Homo sapiens: one gene and its partners. The protein of the gene in region 4 interacts with the protein of the main gene of each other region in a pairwise test. Each region holds a gene or a part of one and is shown on either strand. Other genes may lie near its edges.

What was found.
Region 1: the proteins of CEP63 (region 4) and SPTAN1 interact in a two-hybrid assay, tested with the Homo sapiens proteins (2 studies listed by BioGRID and IntAct).
Region 2: the proteins of CEP63 (region 4) and CAMKK2 interact in a two-hybrid assay, tested with the Homo sapiens proteins (2 studies listed by BioGRID and IntAct).
Region 3: the proteins of CEP63 (region 4) and BFSP2 interact in binary tests that used the Homo sapiens proteins (3 or more experiments, as listed by UniProt).

Annotation. Positions count from the first base shown.
Region 1 is NC_000009.12:128,629,087-128,632,586, reverse strand, and holds part of SPTAN1 (spectrin alpha chain, non-erythrocytic 1), read right to left. Parts: intron 3,463-3,500; coding exon of another isoform or gene 3,400-3,462; intron 2,267-3,399; coding exon 2,212-2,266; intron 461-2,211; coding exon 264-460; intron 157-263; coding exon 103-156; intron 16-102; coding exon 1-15. UniProt on the Homo sapiens protein: Fodrin, which seems to be involved in secretion, interacts with calmodulin in a calcium-dependent manner and is thus candidate for the calcium-dependent movement of the cytoskeleton at the membrane.
Region 2 is NC_000012.12:121,241,210-121,244,709, forward strand, and holds part of CAMKK2 (calcium/calmodulin-dependent protein kinase kinase 2), read right to left. Parts: intron 3,407-3,500; coding exon 3,364-3,406; intron 2,921-3,363; coding exon of another isoform or gene 2,915-2,920; exon of another isoform or gene 2,379-2,914; intron 1-2,378. UniProt on the Homo sapiens protein: Calcium/calmodulin-dependent protein kinase belonging to a proposed calcium-triggered signaling cascade involved in a number of cellular processes. Isoform 1, isoform 2 and isoform 3 phosphorylate CAMK1 and CAMK4. Isoform 3 phosphorylates CAMK1D.
Region 3 is NC_000003.12:133,445,056-133,448,555, reverse strand, and holds part of BFSP2 (phakinin), read right to left. Parts: intron 3,152-3,500; exon of another isoform or gene 2,981-3,151; intron 1,240-2,980; coding exon 1,157-1,239; intron 68-1,156; coding exon 1-67.
Region 4 is NC_000003.12:134,545,057-134,548,556, reverse strand, and holds part of CEP63 (centrosomal protein of 63 kDa), read right to left. Parts: intron 2,972-3,500; coding exon 2,738-2,971; intron 2,409-2,737; coding exon 2,269-2,408; intron 1,223-2,268; coding exon 1,085-1,222; intron 1-1,084. UniProt on the Homo sapiens protein: Required for normal spindle assembly.

The DNA.
Region 1 (3,500 bases), on a different chromosome or scaffold from region 4:
TCCTTGTCAAAGTGTCTGCAGCACAAAGCCGAGGGCGGCTCAGCAGGCAGCCCTGCTGCCGAACACCCCCCACCCAGCCAGGGCGAGTAAGGCTGAACTCACTTAAACATCATGCTGAATTCTTTGAGGGCCTCCTCAGTCACACCTGTTGTGTTCCTGGAAGAAAAACAGAAATTAGGGAACAGACCCTCCACACAGCAGGTGACTGTGTCTTTTCCTCCCCCTGCTCTGGGCTGAGCCTGGCCCACAGCCCTCCCGGGTACCTGGCCTGGATCTGCTGCTCCAGGTTGTGCTGCATGCGCATGCCCAGCTGGTCCAGCTGGTCCCACTGCTGGGCGAGGCCCACGGTGCTGTGCTCCGTGTACTTGTTGTCCAGGATGAGGGCCTCCTCCATGGCGGCCCCCAGGTCCTCGATCTTTTTGAGCTGACTTCTCATGGCTCGGATTTCCTGGTGCTTGCGCTGCAGGGGTGGGGAGCACAGATGCTCAGACGGGGGCCCTCAGCTCAGTCACCAGCCCAGGAGCCACTTACTGCCCTCTGGTTCCTGCTCCAGGCCTGGCCTGAGACCTCGTAAAACAAGAACATTCTAGAATAGGAATAGTGGGATGGGGTGAAGCTGAAGAAATCCCAACCACCTCAATAGAGGGAGAGACTTTCAATGTGAGGGTTCCAAAGCAGCTGGTAGACCTGCCAGAGGGCAGTGCACGCCAAGGACAAGTACGGCGAGGACTCCAGGAAGCAGTGGCCAAAGATTTTTATAAATTTTTTTGAGATGGAGTCTCACTGTCGCCTAGGCTAGAGTGCAGTGGCGCAATCACGCTCACTGCAACCTCCCGGGTTCAAGTGATTCTCCTGCCTCAATCTCCTGAGTAGCTGGAACTAACAGGTGCCCATCACCACACCTGCCTAATTTTTGTATTTTTAGTAGAGGCGATGTTTCACTGCATTGACCAGGCTGGTCTTGAATTCCTAGGCTCAAGTGATCTGCCTGTCTTGGCCTCCCAAAGTTCTGGGATTATAGGCATGAGCCACTGCACCCAGCCTTATTTTTAAGACAAGGTCTTGCTATATATTGCCCATGCTGGACTTTGAGCAGGTGTAGGCCACCATGCCCAAGTAATTTTTTTCAGAGGGAGTTTTGCTCTTGTCACCCAGGCTGGAGTGCAATGGCCTGATCTCGGGTCACTGCAACCTCCGCATCCCAGAATCAAGTGATTCTCCTGCCTCAGCCTCCTGAGTAGCTGGGATTACAGGTGCCTGCCACCACACCCAGCTAATATTTTGTATTTTTAGTAGAGATGGGGTTTCCCCATGTTGGCCAGGCTGGTCTCGAACTCCTGACTTCAAGCAATCCACCCGCCTCGGCTTCCCAAAGTGCTGGGATTACAGGTGTAAGTCACCACACCCAGCCCCAAAGACTTTCTTTAAAGTGAAGAGCCCTCGGCCGGGAGTGGTGGCTCATGCTTGTAATCCCAGCACTTTGGGAGGCTGAGGTGGACAGATCACTGGAGATCAGGAGTTCCAGACCGGCCTGGCCAACAAGGCAAAACACTGTCTCTACTAAAAATATAAAAACTAGGCCAGATGTGGTGGCTCACGCTTGTAATCCCAGCACTTTGGGAGGCCGAGGCGGGCAGATCAGCCGAGGTCAGGAGTTCGAGACCAGCCTGCCTGGCCAACATGGTGAAACCCTGTCTCTACTAAAAATACAAAAATTACCCAGGTGTGGTGGTGGGCGCCTGTAATCCCAGCTACTTGGGAGGTTGAGGCAGGAGGATCACTTGAACCCAGGAGGTGGAGGTTGCAGTGAGCCAAGACCACGTCCATTGCACTCCAGCCTGGGCAACAAGAGTGAAACTCCATCTCAAAAGATAATTAAAAATAAACAAAAATTAGCCAAATGTGGTGGCACACATCTGTAGTACAGCTATTTGGGAGGCTGAGGCAGGAGAATTGCTTGACCTGGGAGGTGGAGGTTGCAGTGAGCCAATATCGCACCACTGCACTCCAGCCTGGGCGAGAGAGAGATTCCATGAAGAAAGAAAGAAAAGAGAGAGAGATAGTGAAGAGCCCTAGACTGCTTTAGGCCAAGGGAAAAGGGTACAATAATAGCACATCTGGTTCCTGACTTTAAGCCAGGAAGGGAAGGGGTACCCTGGGGGGTGGCTGGGTGAAGGGTCTCTGCTGGGCCAGAGCCCCACGGGCACTTACTTTGGTAGCTTCAAGCTGGGATTCGAGGGTCCCCGACTCTTCCACCATACAGGACCTAAACGTGGAAGGACAGTGAGGAAAGGGGCCTGCTCCCAGCTGGCCGAGAGCTCAGAATGAACCTTCTCTCAGAGAGAGCAATGCCTGGCAACCTCACATTCCTTTTAAGGAAACCAAACCTAACTGCAACTGGCCATCTTTACCTAATGGGCCCCAGGGATCGAGGGATGGCAGGGAGCATTTCTCCCGTTTTAGAGATGGGAAGCTGCTGCCTTGGTGTGGGCCAGGGCTGAGCCCACTCGTCTTGCTCCCAAGGCCAGGATGACTCAGGAATGGAGTTTAAATTCCCCCATGGGTGCAGGGTGGCTGCAGGCCTGTCTGAGCATCCTCTCTGCAGCCATGTGGGGGATGGCACACCCTGACACCTGACAGACAGGAGACCTCAGGGCAGAGGGGAGGCTGAGAACCTGACAGCCTCCCCACAGAAACCCTGGAGTGTCCCGGCAAGGTTCCTGAGGGAGGGAGCCCCATTCTAGGGGGAATGAGAGCACGACCCTGCAGACAAAGGACACAAGTGGAGTGCTGGGAGATCACGACCAACTGTGCCAAAAGGAGAGAGATGGCTGTGACTAAACCCCAGATCCCGGTTCCATCCTCTAGACACAGCCAGGGAGGGAGCCTCCTCTCTAGGACCAAGTTCTGAGAGCAGATGGGCTCTGGGGAGCCTCCTTCCCAAGAGAACACAGTGCCAGGTCACAGAGGCTACCAGTAAACAAAGACAACAAACGAGTTAGGGTTACGTGCAGGGACGAATCACACGGTGCGTGTGGCCTTGGTGGGGTTTTAGCCCAGGCTCCCCTGTACCCACATTCACCCCAACCTACCCTTTTAAAACCCGGCGAGCCAGGGTTAGCTCTGCAATCTCCCCAGGTTCAAAGTGCTCTAGCAAGGCAAGGCACCAGGCTTCCTCCTACCCCAGCAGGTCAGACTCACAGTCACGCCATGTCCCCCCGGGGAAAATGCCCCCCAGGACCTGGGGGCAGGAGGCTGGGTGCCGGTGCAGTGGGAGGACAGACCCCTCCTTCCCAAGCAGCCGAGGGCGGCAGGTTAGTCAGGGTGGAGCCGCCTGGGGATGTCAAGAGTGCATCAGTAAAGCCACAGTGAGGTAAGAAGAGAAATAAGGAGAAAAACCTTCCAGACAGATCATCCCCAACTTCATACTGATAGACACGAATGACCCGACGATATGCTATGCTATTCAAAGAAAAGAAACCAAATGAATACACCAAAGG
Region 2 (3,500 bases), on a different chromosome or scaffold from region 4:
CAGGTTTTTAGGTACTTCGATCCCCCACTTAGGCTATGAGCCCTTACAGGGAAGGGACTGTGACGCTTGTCCTCAGTCACCAGATGTTGAGTTCCTTGTGTGTGGGGGTGATCAGAGCCTCCCCTGCCTGGCCTGGCACACAGCTGGCCCTCAAGAAAGGGCAGATGACAACTGCTCCAGGGATCCTCCCGCCTCAGCCCTCCTGCAGCCAGCCCTGAGGGAGGAGCACCTCAGACAGAAGAGGAGGCCCCTTCCCTCTTGGAAGTGGGAGGAGGAGAGCCCTTGTTTCCCTGAAGAGCCCAGGCTGGAGCCGCCGGTGTGACAGCGTGGATGGCGTGACAGGTGCGAGGGGAATCCCCGAGCCTATCCCCTCACCACCATCACACAGCTCCCCTGTTCTTAGGGAGGTCACTGGGCATGCCACATGGGTTACTGTCTGTCCTTCCCCCACAACAATCCGTGTCTCCTGTCCAGGAGGGAGACTGTCCTTACACAAGGGAAAGGAAGCGTGATGTCTGGCTTGCTATGTTTCTGATGGAGAATGTGGGTAAGGTCCCTGGGGAGGGGGGCGCTGTAACTAGACGTTAGGTCAGGCCCTCAGTCTCTGCCCTCGCAGTTGCCTGTTGGTAGGGGTTGGGTCTTACTGCAGACGGCAGGCAGGCCCCCAGTCCAAGACCCCCAGTGCCTGAATCAGCTCTGTGAGCTCCCATGACCAAGGCATCCTACCTGCTGGGGGCTGAGGGCAGGGGATCCCAGGTGAAGAAAGGAAGGGGCAGCATAGCCCTTTGGGGCCAGTCTCCATCTGCTGGTGTCTTGCAATTTTGATCTCATTGAAACGAAGGCCGGGCACAGTGGCTCATGCCTGTAATCCCAGTACTTTGGGAGGCTGAGGCAGGCAGATCACCCGAGGTCAGGAGTTCAAGACCAGCCTGGCCAACATGGTGAAACCCCCATCTCTACTAAAAAAATACAAAAATTAGCTGGGCATGGTGGCACATGTCTGTAAACCCAGCTACTCAGGAAGCTGAGGCAGGAGAATCGCTTGAGCCTAGGAGGCAGAGGTTGCAGTGAGCCGAGATCACACCACTACACTCCAACACTCCAACCTGGGCAACAGTGCAAGACCCTGTCTCAAAAAAAAAAAAGAAAGAAAGAAAGAAAGAAAGAAAATAGGAAAGAAACCAACAGCAGACTTGCTCAGAGACAGGAGGCAGCCCCGGTTTGGCAAACCCTAAAATGGAGATTGAGAGGAGGAAGGCCGAGGAAAGGCCAGCCCGCTGGGTTTCCACTCCATCATCCGTGAGGCTCACACCCAAGGCGGGGCTGCCCAGGCGTCTGTCTGGGCACAAGCTGGGGACTGTGTCTGCCTTCTGAGACTGCTGAAGACCGGTTCTGAAGGACTGCCATTTTCCCTGCTCTATGCTGGAGGGCAAGGTTTCTCTCAAAAGCATAAATAATTCCCAAACAGGTGTTCCTCCTAGATTACCATATAAGCCCTGACTCCCACGGGATGGGTGGCCAATCCATTTCTTTTTCTTTTCTTTTTTTTTTGAGACGGAGTCTCGCTCTGTCGCCCAGGCTGGAGTGCTGTGGCGCAATCTCGGCTCACTGCAAGCTCCGCCTCCCGGGTTCACGCCATTCTCCTGCCTCAGCCTCCCGAGTAGCTGGGACTACAGGCGCCCGCCACCGCGCCCGGCTAATTTTTTGTATTTTTAGTAGAGACGGGGTTTCACTGTGTTAGCCAGGATGGTCTCGATCTCCTGACCTCGTCATTCGCCTGCCTTGGCCTCCCAAAGCGCTGGGATTACAGGCGTGAGCCACCGCGCCCAGCCTTTTTTTTTGAGACAGATTTTTGCTCTTGTTGCCCAGGCTGGAGTGCAATGACGTGATCTCAGCTCACCGCAACCTCCACCTCCTGGGTTCAAGTGATTCTCCTGCCTCACCTCCCGAGTAGCTGGGACTACAAGTGTGCGCCACCATGCCCGGCTAATATTTGTATTTTTAGTAGAGACGGGGTTTCACCATATTGGCCAGGCTGGTCTCAAACTCCTGACCTCATGATCCACCTGCCTCGGCCTCCCAAAGTGCTGGGATTACAGGCGTGAGCCACTGCATCCAGCCTGCTAGTCAATCCATTTCATCTCGTAAGCCAACTCCTAACACTTTGTACACAAATGTTCATAGCATCAGTCTTCATTCGATAGCCAAAAGGTGGAGACAAGTCCATCCACAGAGGAATGGATGAACAAAGTGAGGTGCATCCAAACAATGGAATCTTATTTGGCCATGAAAAGGAATGAAGCACTAATACATGTAGAGCATGGATGAACCTTGAAAACATGATGCTGAGAGAAAGAAGCCAGACACAGAAGGCCACGTAGTGTATGACGCCATTTATACGAAACGTCCAGAATAGGCAAATCCATACCTATTCTGAGTGGTTACTGGGGTGGGGGAGTTGGATGGGGACAGCTAAGGAGTGTAGGGTGTCTTCTTGGGCTGATGAAAATGTCGTAAAGTTGACGGTGGTAATGGCTGCAGAAGTCTGTATTAGAAACCACTGAATCATACACTTCCCGTGGGTGAATTACATGGTATGTGAATTGTACCTCAGTAAAGCTATGTTTAAGAAACAGAAGTGACTGCCTGGAGCTCCCACCAAGTCAGGTAGCCATGATGTGCTCAGTGGGAAGGGCAGTGGGGTCCCCACCCACCACAGCACCTGCAGCAGGGGTGCCCAGCAGGTTCTCCCAGTCTCATAAGGACACAAAGCCTCATCTGTCCTGGGAGGTTCTGGTCACCTGGGCTGGCTATGTGTATGAAGGAAGGGTGGCTGACAGCAAGAAGGTCTGCATCCACTCGGGTGAGGGAACTCTTACGTTACTTTGCAACAGGCAGGAAGGGGACTTATTTTCTAGGTCTAAACACATCAAAGAAAGAGAAGTGGAGGCTGGAGAGCCCCTAGCGAAGAGCCACACAGTGCAGCATGCCTGACCTATGTGCTGACCATGCGGACTCGGGGGGGCACCCATGGGCCCTGTGACAGAGCTTCAACACCATTGACGTGCACTGAGAAGACATGGGTGCCACACAGGATCTTCAGACCTGGGTGCATTCTCAGGCATTCCAGCTGGAGCGCCATGCACCCGCAGCCCCAGCCCACATGCATGACCCACCATTGGGTCCAAGCCCCCGAGGCCCCTCATTCTAATACTGGGTCTGGAGGCCCGCGGTGAGCCGGGCCACAGCAGCCCAGGCTGGAAGGAGCATCTGCCCGGGTGGGGATGCCCCCGTGCTCTGCAGCTGCCCACCCGCCCCCCTCAGGCCCCAGCAGAGGCTACGGCACAGGCAGGCGGGCGTTACCTTGAGCTCAGACAGGGACTCACATTCCCTGGTTGGTTTTTTGCTGGAATCACCAGAGGGAGGGAAAAGGGAAGTGAGAAGGGACCCTTGGGATCCACGGGATGCCCGTTCCCCCACCCTGAGACACTCAGACCCCA
Region 3 (3,500 bases), 1.1 Mb from region 4:
AATGACTTTATACAGAGAGTTAATTTCCTCTTCTGCCGCCTTTCGAAATGGCTGCTCATTTTCATATCTGCAGATAAAGGAACTTAATTAGCATAACTGAGTAGCCCAAAAGAAAAAGAATCAGATTATAAATGTTACCAACAGGCCAATTATGTGATAGTTAGACAATGAATGGTAAAAGTCACTGTTTCAATAGATTTGAGGGCACTGTTAGTGCAGTTGTCACACATTGATTTATTAAAATGAAGGCAATTGCAGCCAACTTCTGATAACCTGGCTTCCCGGGCTACCAGCCTCATGGGAGTGTTGCAACACAGAACTCCAGGGAAAACTCAGGAGTTCAGATCCAGGTTAGGGGATCCGGCATCTTCATCGCTATCCTGATTGTCCTCCTTTTCAACCAAGGATCCTTTAACAAACATTACTGACAACCTGCTAAGCACCAGGGTGGGGACCCCAAAATAAGAAATGTGGTTTCTGTCTCCAAAGCACCCATGTTAAAAGTGTCCATCTCCAGGAGAGTGGCTGCAAACCCAGATGCCTTCAGGGACTGAGTGGGAGGTGTAGCTGAGCACGGTTCTCAAGCCTGGATGCACATTAAGTCACCTGGTGAGCTCTAAAACTGCTGAAGCCTGGACCCAACCCCTGGGGACTCTGATTTAATTAGTCTATGGCTTGTGCACTGCACTGACATTTTTAAGTGCCCAGGTAATTCTGATATGCCCAGGTTGGAGAATCATTACTGTAAGCTAGTAGTTCTCAAAGTATTTGAGTCCCAGGACCAGCAGGATCAGCATCCCTGGGAACTTGTTAGGAATATAAATTTGGGGCCCTTCTCCAGACCCATTGAGTCAGAAATTCAACAGGGTGGGGCGCAGCAATCTCTGTTTTCTATATGGCCCCTGGGTGATTCTGAGCATTCCAGAGTTTGAGAACCCTGCTCTAAACCAACTGACAGTGGGCAAAATCTTTGAGCCCTTGGGGCCTACTTTATGTTTACAAGGAGGGGTGTGAGCTGGATAATCATGGCTCTGTTATCCTGCCAGCTTCCCCTGAGGTAGAAGGTGGATGATGCAGGCTCCAGAACAGCATTATCCACACTTGCCTAGGAGTCTAGGGATGTGGAGGGACTGTCGCCTCTGCTGTAAGACATTACCTCTCTTTAAAGTCATCTGCTCCGGCCTGGATAGTTTCTGTCTGCAGCATGAGCCGGGCATTTTCCAAGACTGCCTCACCCACCTAGAGCGATCACACACACCAAAGGAGACAAGGTCACTGGGAGCGTCAAGATCACTTACCACCATGACTTGTGTTAGGCACAGAGGCTCTGGGGGACCTCAGAGAACCTTTCTTACAGCAAATATTTGTGGAATTAAGATGTCCCTCTCTTTGGACAATGGTCAGGGTGGGGGGATATAAATAATAAGGCATAAAATCTGGATATCTTCTAAGAGTTTTTAGAGTGGGATTTTTGGCACAAAAAGACTATTCAAAGGCAGACTTGTTCATAGCCTCTGTCACAGTGACAAGCTTTCATCTCTCCAGGGCAGAGTCCGGCTCCTTAGATGAAGTTTCACTGGCTTTGCCTAGCAGCTCTTAAAATTTCTGGTCATGGATGCCTTTGGAAGGCTGGTGAAAGCTCTAGATGAGTGCTGAGAGAGCTTCCTGTGACGGTGGAAATGCTCTGTCTGCACTGTCCAGCATGGTGGCCACCCGTGGCTACCGTATTGGGCAGCGTGGCTCTAGAGTTTCGTCTCCCCCAAAACATACACGTGAACATAAACATTGTGGATATAGTTTAGGGGTTTCATGGAGCCTTGAGGAGTGGTTTTTCAAACTTGAATCCCCAAGCCTCTCAGGATCTCCCACAGGTAGGGAATGAGGGGTGTCCTCCCTTCAACCCAAGAAACTCCTTTATATATATATATATATATATATATATATATATATATATATATATATATATATATATATATATATATATAAATGGTGAGCTGAAGGCTCTGATAGGGGGAGCCTGCAGGGTGGAGCCAAATCCCAGCTATGGGAGAAGAAAATAACTGCTTTCCCCTTGCTCCAGTGTGGCTGTCTTATTTTGTTTCATTTCATTGAATTACTTTTTTTGTTTTTTCTTTGAGACAGAGTCTTGCTTTGTTGCCCAGGCTGGAGTGCAGTGGCACAATATCTGCTCACTGCAACCTCTGCCTCCCAGATTCAAGATATTCTCGTGCCTCAGCCTCCTGAGTAGCTGGGATTACAGGCATGTGCCACTGCGCCCAGCTAATTTTTGTATTTTTAATAGAGATGGGGTTTCACCATGTTGGCCAGGCTGGTCTCGAACTCCTGACCTCAAATTATCCACCCATCTTGGCCTCCCAGAGTCCTGGGGTTACAGGTGTAAGCCACCAAACCCTGCCATTTTCATTGAATTCCCCACTAGCAAAGCTAATCATTTCTGTTCCAGCTTGGCCTGGGGCACACTGGGGAGCAGGCAGACTAGGGTGTCTCCCTTTCCCAGTTCTTAATCACTCCTGTCTCTCACCTCTGGTGCCTGGAGTTCTCCTTCTGGTTGATAAAGAACTTGCAACTCATTCACATTTAAGTATCAAAGGACTAATATTGGCTTAAAATAGTGATTTATATCCTTCTTTTAAGGTAACAATTCCTACCCTCCAAAATTAAAGCTTATAGAAAACCTATGTACAGTTGTCCTTTGGTATCTATGGGGTCTTGGTTCCAGTCCCCCACGGATGCTCAAGTCTCTTATATAAAATGATGTAGTATTTGCATATAACCTACACACACATCCTTCCATATACTTTAAATCATCTCAAGATTACTTATGATACCCAATACAATGGAAATGCTATGTACATAGTTGTTATTTATTGTGTTATTTAGAAAATAATGACAAGAAAAAAGCCCACATGTTCAGTATAAACGCAATCATCTATTTTTTAAAAAATATTTTGATCTACAGTTGGTTGAATCCATGGATGTGGAACCCATGGATGTGAAGGACTGACTGTACTTTGCACTAGTGGTTCTCAAAGTGTGGGCCCTGGACCAGTGGCAGCAGCATCACCTGGGAACTTGTGAGAAATGCACTTTTCAGCTCCTGTTTCAGATGGACCTATCAGAATCTCTGCAGGTGGGTCCCAACAATTTGTGTCTCAGCAAGCTTTCCAGGGGCTTATGATGCATACTCAACCTTGAGAACCCCGGTTTCACATGGCCCTGCCCCCAGGCCTGCTCTAGCTGCCTCCCTGCTGCACCTGGAATCCCTCTGTGCCTTTGCACCTGCTGCCTCCATTGAGAGCAACTTGTTTCACTACCTCCCCACTCCCAGCCCTCAGTCTGAGAAAGCCTGCTCCAGTATAATGCTCATTTCAAACACGGCTTCCCCATGAAACTTTTCTATTTATTCACTCATTCATTCTTGCCTTAATTTCTTCAGCACATAATTACTGTTTATGCCAGGCTCTGTCCTGTTTGTTGAG
Region 4 (3,500 bases):
CAGAAAATGTCAGTGTACAAATGATCATGATTCATGTGTTTAAAACAAGATATCACACTCTTCCCAATCAAAAAGTTGAGAGGTTATGAAAAACCAAAAAAAATTCTATAAGTACGACAATGACAAGTGTTTAGGTGGGTATGGTATAGCATTAGTCAGGATTCAATTAACACCCAAGGAAGTAACAACACCACAGCAGAACAAAAAGGATCACCATGTGTCAACTGTTACCCCTTCCTACCCTGCTTCTGAGGTGGCAAGGAGGAAAACCTAAGTGAAGGGCTGCTAAACAGGTGAAAGGTAAAGAAGTAGAGTCAGTATAGACAACTCTTTTGAAGAATTTGGTCTTAAAGAGAAGTACAGAAATGTGGAAATAACTTGACGGAGACATAGGATTAAGGGATGGTTTTTCCCCCAGATGGGTGATGTTACAGCGTATTTTATACCAGTGGATAGATTCAGCAGACAGAAAGAACTTGATGATGCAGAAGAGAAAGGATATAACTACAGAAAAAGGACACAAGTGGAGTGGTTGGTCTTAGAAGTGCAGAAAGGCACAGGTATGGGCAGACTGGTAGATTTGATGACAGAAAGATTAAGAGGTTCTCCTTTAATTGCTTCTGTCTTCTCAATGAAATAAGAACTTAGGGCAGGGTGCGGTGACTCATGCCTGTAATCCCAGCACTTTGGGAGGCCAAGGCAGGTGGATCACCTGAGGTCAGGAGTTCAAGACCAGCCTGGCCAACATGGTGAAACACCGTCTCTACAAAAATATAAAAATTAGCCAGGCATGGTGGTGCACGCCTGTAATCTCAGCTACTCAGGAGGCTGGGGCAGAAGAATCAATTGAACCGGGAGGCGGAGGTTGCAGTGAGCTGAGATTGTGCCATTGCACTCCAGTCTGGGTGACAGAGCGGACTCCGTCTCAAAAAAAAAAAAAAAGAAATAAGAACTTAGGCCATTTGTGGATACTAGAAAAAAATCTTATTTTTTTTACTATGACTATTACATTCATTTACAATATGATGATCAAAAATTCATTTTAACAACTTGAAATTTTTGAAATGTGTGTATAATTATGTACCTGCCTTCAAGACAAGTCACCTCTGCCTGCAGAAGGTCCTCACTAGTATGGGTAAAATTCAACTGGGAGAGCACACTGTCTAAGTCCCCCTGCCCTTGAGAGGTGTACTTCTTTTCTGCCAGAGATTCTTCCCGTGGCCTATGGAAAGACATAGGATGATTGTTAACGCCTTTATCTCTGCAAACAAAAATAATGCTCATCTAGTCTGTGTTTCCCCATCATTTTTGGTAACCTCTTTGGAACTCTTCAAGTTTGTCTCCTGCTTTATAAAAAGAATATTGGGAGAGGAAAGAAAGAGTCAAGAGATGCTGATACTTCAAAAAGTAGCAATTTACTCCCTTCTTAACTGGGATTTGGCCTTTTTTCAAGGGAAAAAGACAAAATGGCAAAATCACTTCAGTGACACTTGAAACCCTGTACCAAAAAAACTGAAAAGTTACAGGAGAATTCTGGCAAAAATAAAAGTGTGCATCAGACTTAAATCAAGCAAGAGGGCTAGCCCAATGGCTGGCTGCTATTAATGATAAGCAGCTACTAATCACAACTTATTCCACCAACAAAGTGAGGCCTCCAGGAGACATGGATGACAATTCCCTGCACATTTGGATTTTCACCAAGCATGCAAACTGACCTTGGTTTCTAACTTTCTAAACATGAGAGTCTCTGTTAGGGACCCTAACTGGTGGCAGAAGAAAATTAACCACACAAAATTTTATAACACTTTAAAAACCTAACTCAGAAGTTAAAGCCAATTAAGAAAATCCACAATATGATCAAACATAAAATTATGAATATGCAATATGAAAACTAGTGCTTGGATGGGCGTGGCAGCTCACACCTGTAATCCCAGCACTTTGGGAGGCTGAGGTGGGCAGATCACCTGAGGTTAGGAATTTAAGACCGGCCTAGCCAACATGATGAATGCCCGTCTCTAAAAATACAAAAAACTAGCCAGGTGTGGTAGCATGCACCTGTAGTCCCAGCTACTTGGGAGGCTGAGCCTGGAGAATGGCTTGAACCTCGGAGGTTGAGGTTGCAGTGAGCTGAGATTGCACCACTGCACTCCAGTCTGGGCAACAGGAGACTATCTGAAAATAAAATAAAAATAAAAATAAAAATAAGCCTAGTGCTTAATACCTAGTCATTAAGTGGCTAAGATGAATAATATTTAAGATTAAATTTACCTTATAGCTTCTACAGCATGTTGAGTGTTAGTTGCCTTTACTTTTTCTTGTAACTTCTCCTTTTGTATTCTGGCCTCATGTATGAGATTTTCTTGAGACTGAAGAGCTGCCTTCAATTCTCTCTTTTCTTCCTGCAGAGCCTGCAAAAAAGTCAAATATGATTATAATTTTCCTTCTTTTTAATTCCTGCAGAACCTGCAAAATACTCAGAAATTTCTAAGCCAGCTATTATTACAATTTTTCTATTTCACGAGAAGCCAGGAAGTCAGACTATAAGTTACGTAACAATATTACAATATTGTAAATATTGTAATAAAGTCACAATATTAGTAAAACTATCAATATCTGATCCATCATTTATAAAGTAGGGAAGAAAGTATGGATTGTAGAACCTAGTTCTAGCTTAATAACACTCTCTTAAAATACTCATACACACACTTCCCCCAATTATAGTGATTTTAAAACATACCTCTAATAGTTTTTCAGATTCCCTCAATTTTTCTTCTTTTTGCTGCTGCTCCTGTAGGACAGTCATACTGGTTCCAACCAAGTCATTGACCCTCATGGTGAGGCGCTCTATTTCCAACTCATTGGCACAGATAGTGTCATTAGCCCGCTCCAGTTTACTGCTTAAGTGTTGAATTTCTGATTGGCTAGAAAGTTCCACAGACTCTAATTTCTGTTTCCGATTGACAAGCTGAGCCTAGAAACACAGACTATCAATCAATAGGTAAAAGGGAAATGATAAAATAATCAATGAATAAGACTAAAATGAAACTATTATTTCCATAAAAACATAAAGCATTGGCTCACTAAAATATATATATATATATTGCGAAGGGGTAAGAAAGAATTGAGAGGCTGGGAGTGGTGGCTCACGCCTGTAATCCTAACACTATGGGAGGCTGAGGCAGGCAGATCGCTTGAGCTCAGGAGTTCGAGATCAGCCTGGAAACATGGCGAAACCCTGTCTTTATAAAAAATACAAAAATTGGCCGGGTGCAGTGGATCACGCCTGTAATCCCGCACTTTGAGAGGCTGAGGTGGGCGGATCATGAGGTCAGGAGATTGAGACCATCCTTGCCAACATGGTGAAACCCGTCTCTACTAAAAATACAAAAATTAGCTGGGCGTGGTGGCGCGTGCCTGTAATCCCAGCTACTCGGGATCGGGAGGCTGAGGCAGGAGAATCACTTGAACCAGGGAGTTGGAGGTTGCAGTGAGCCGAGATT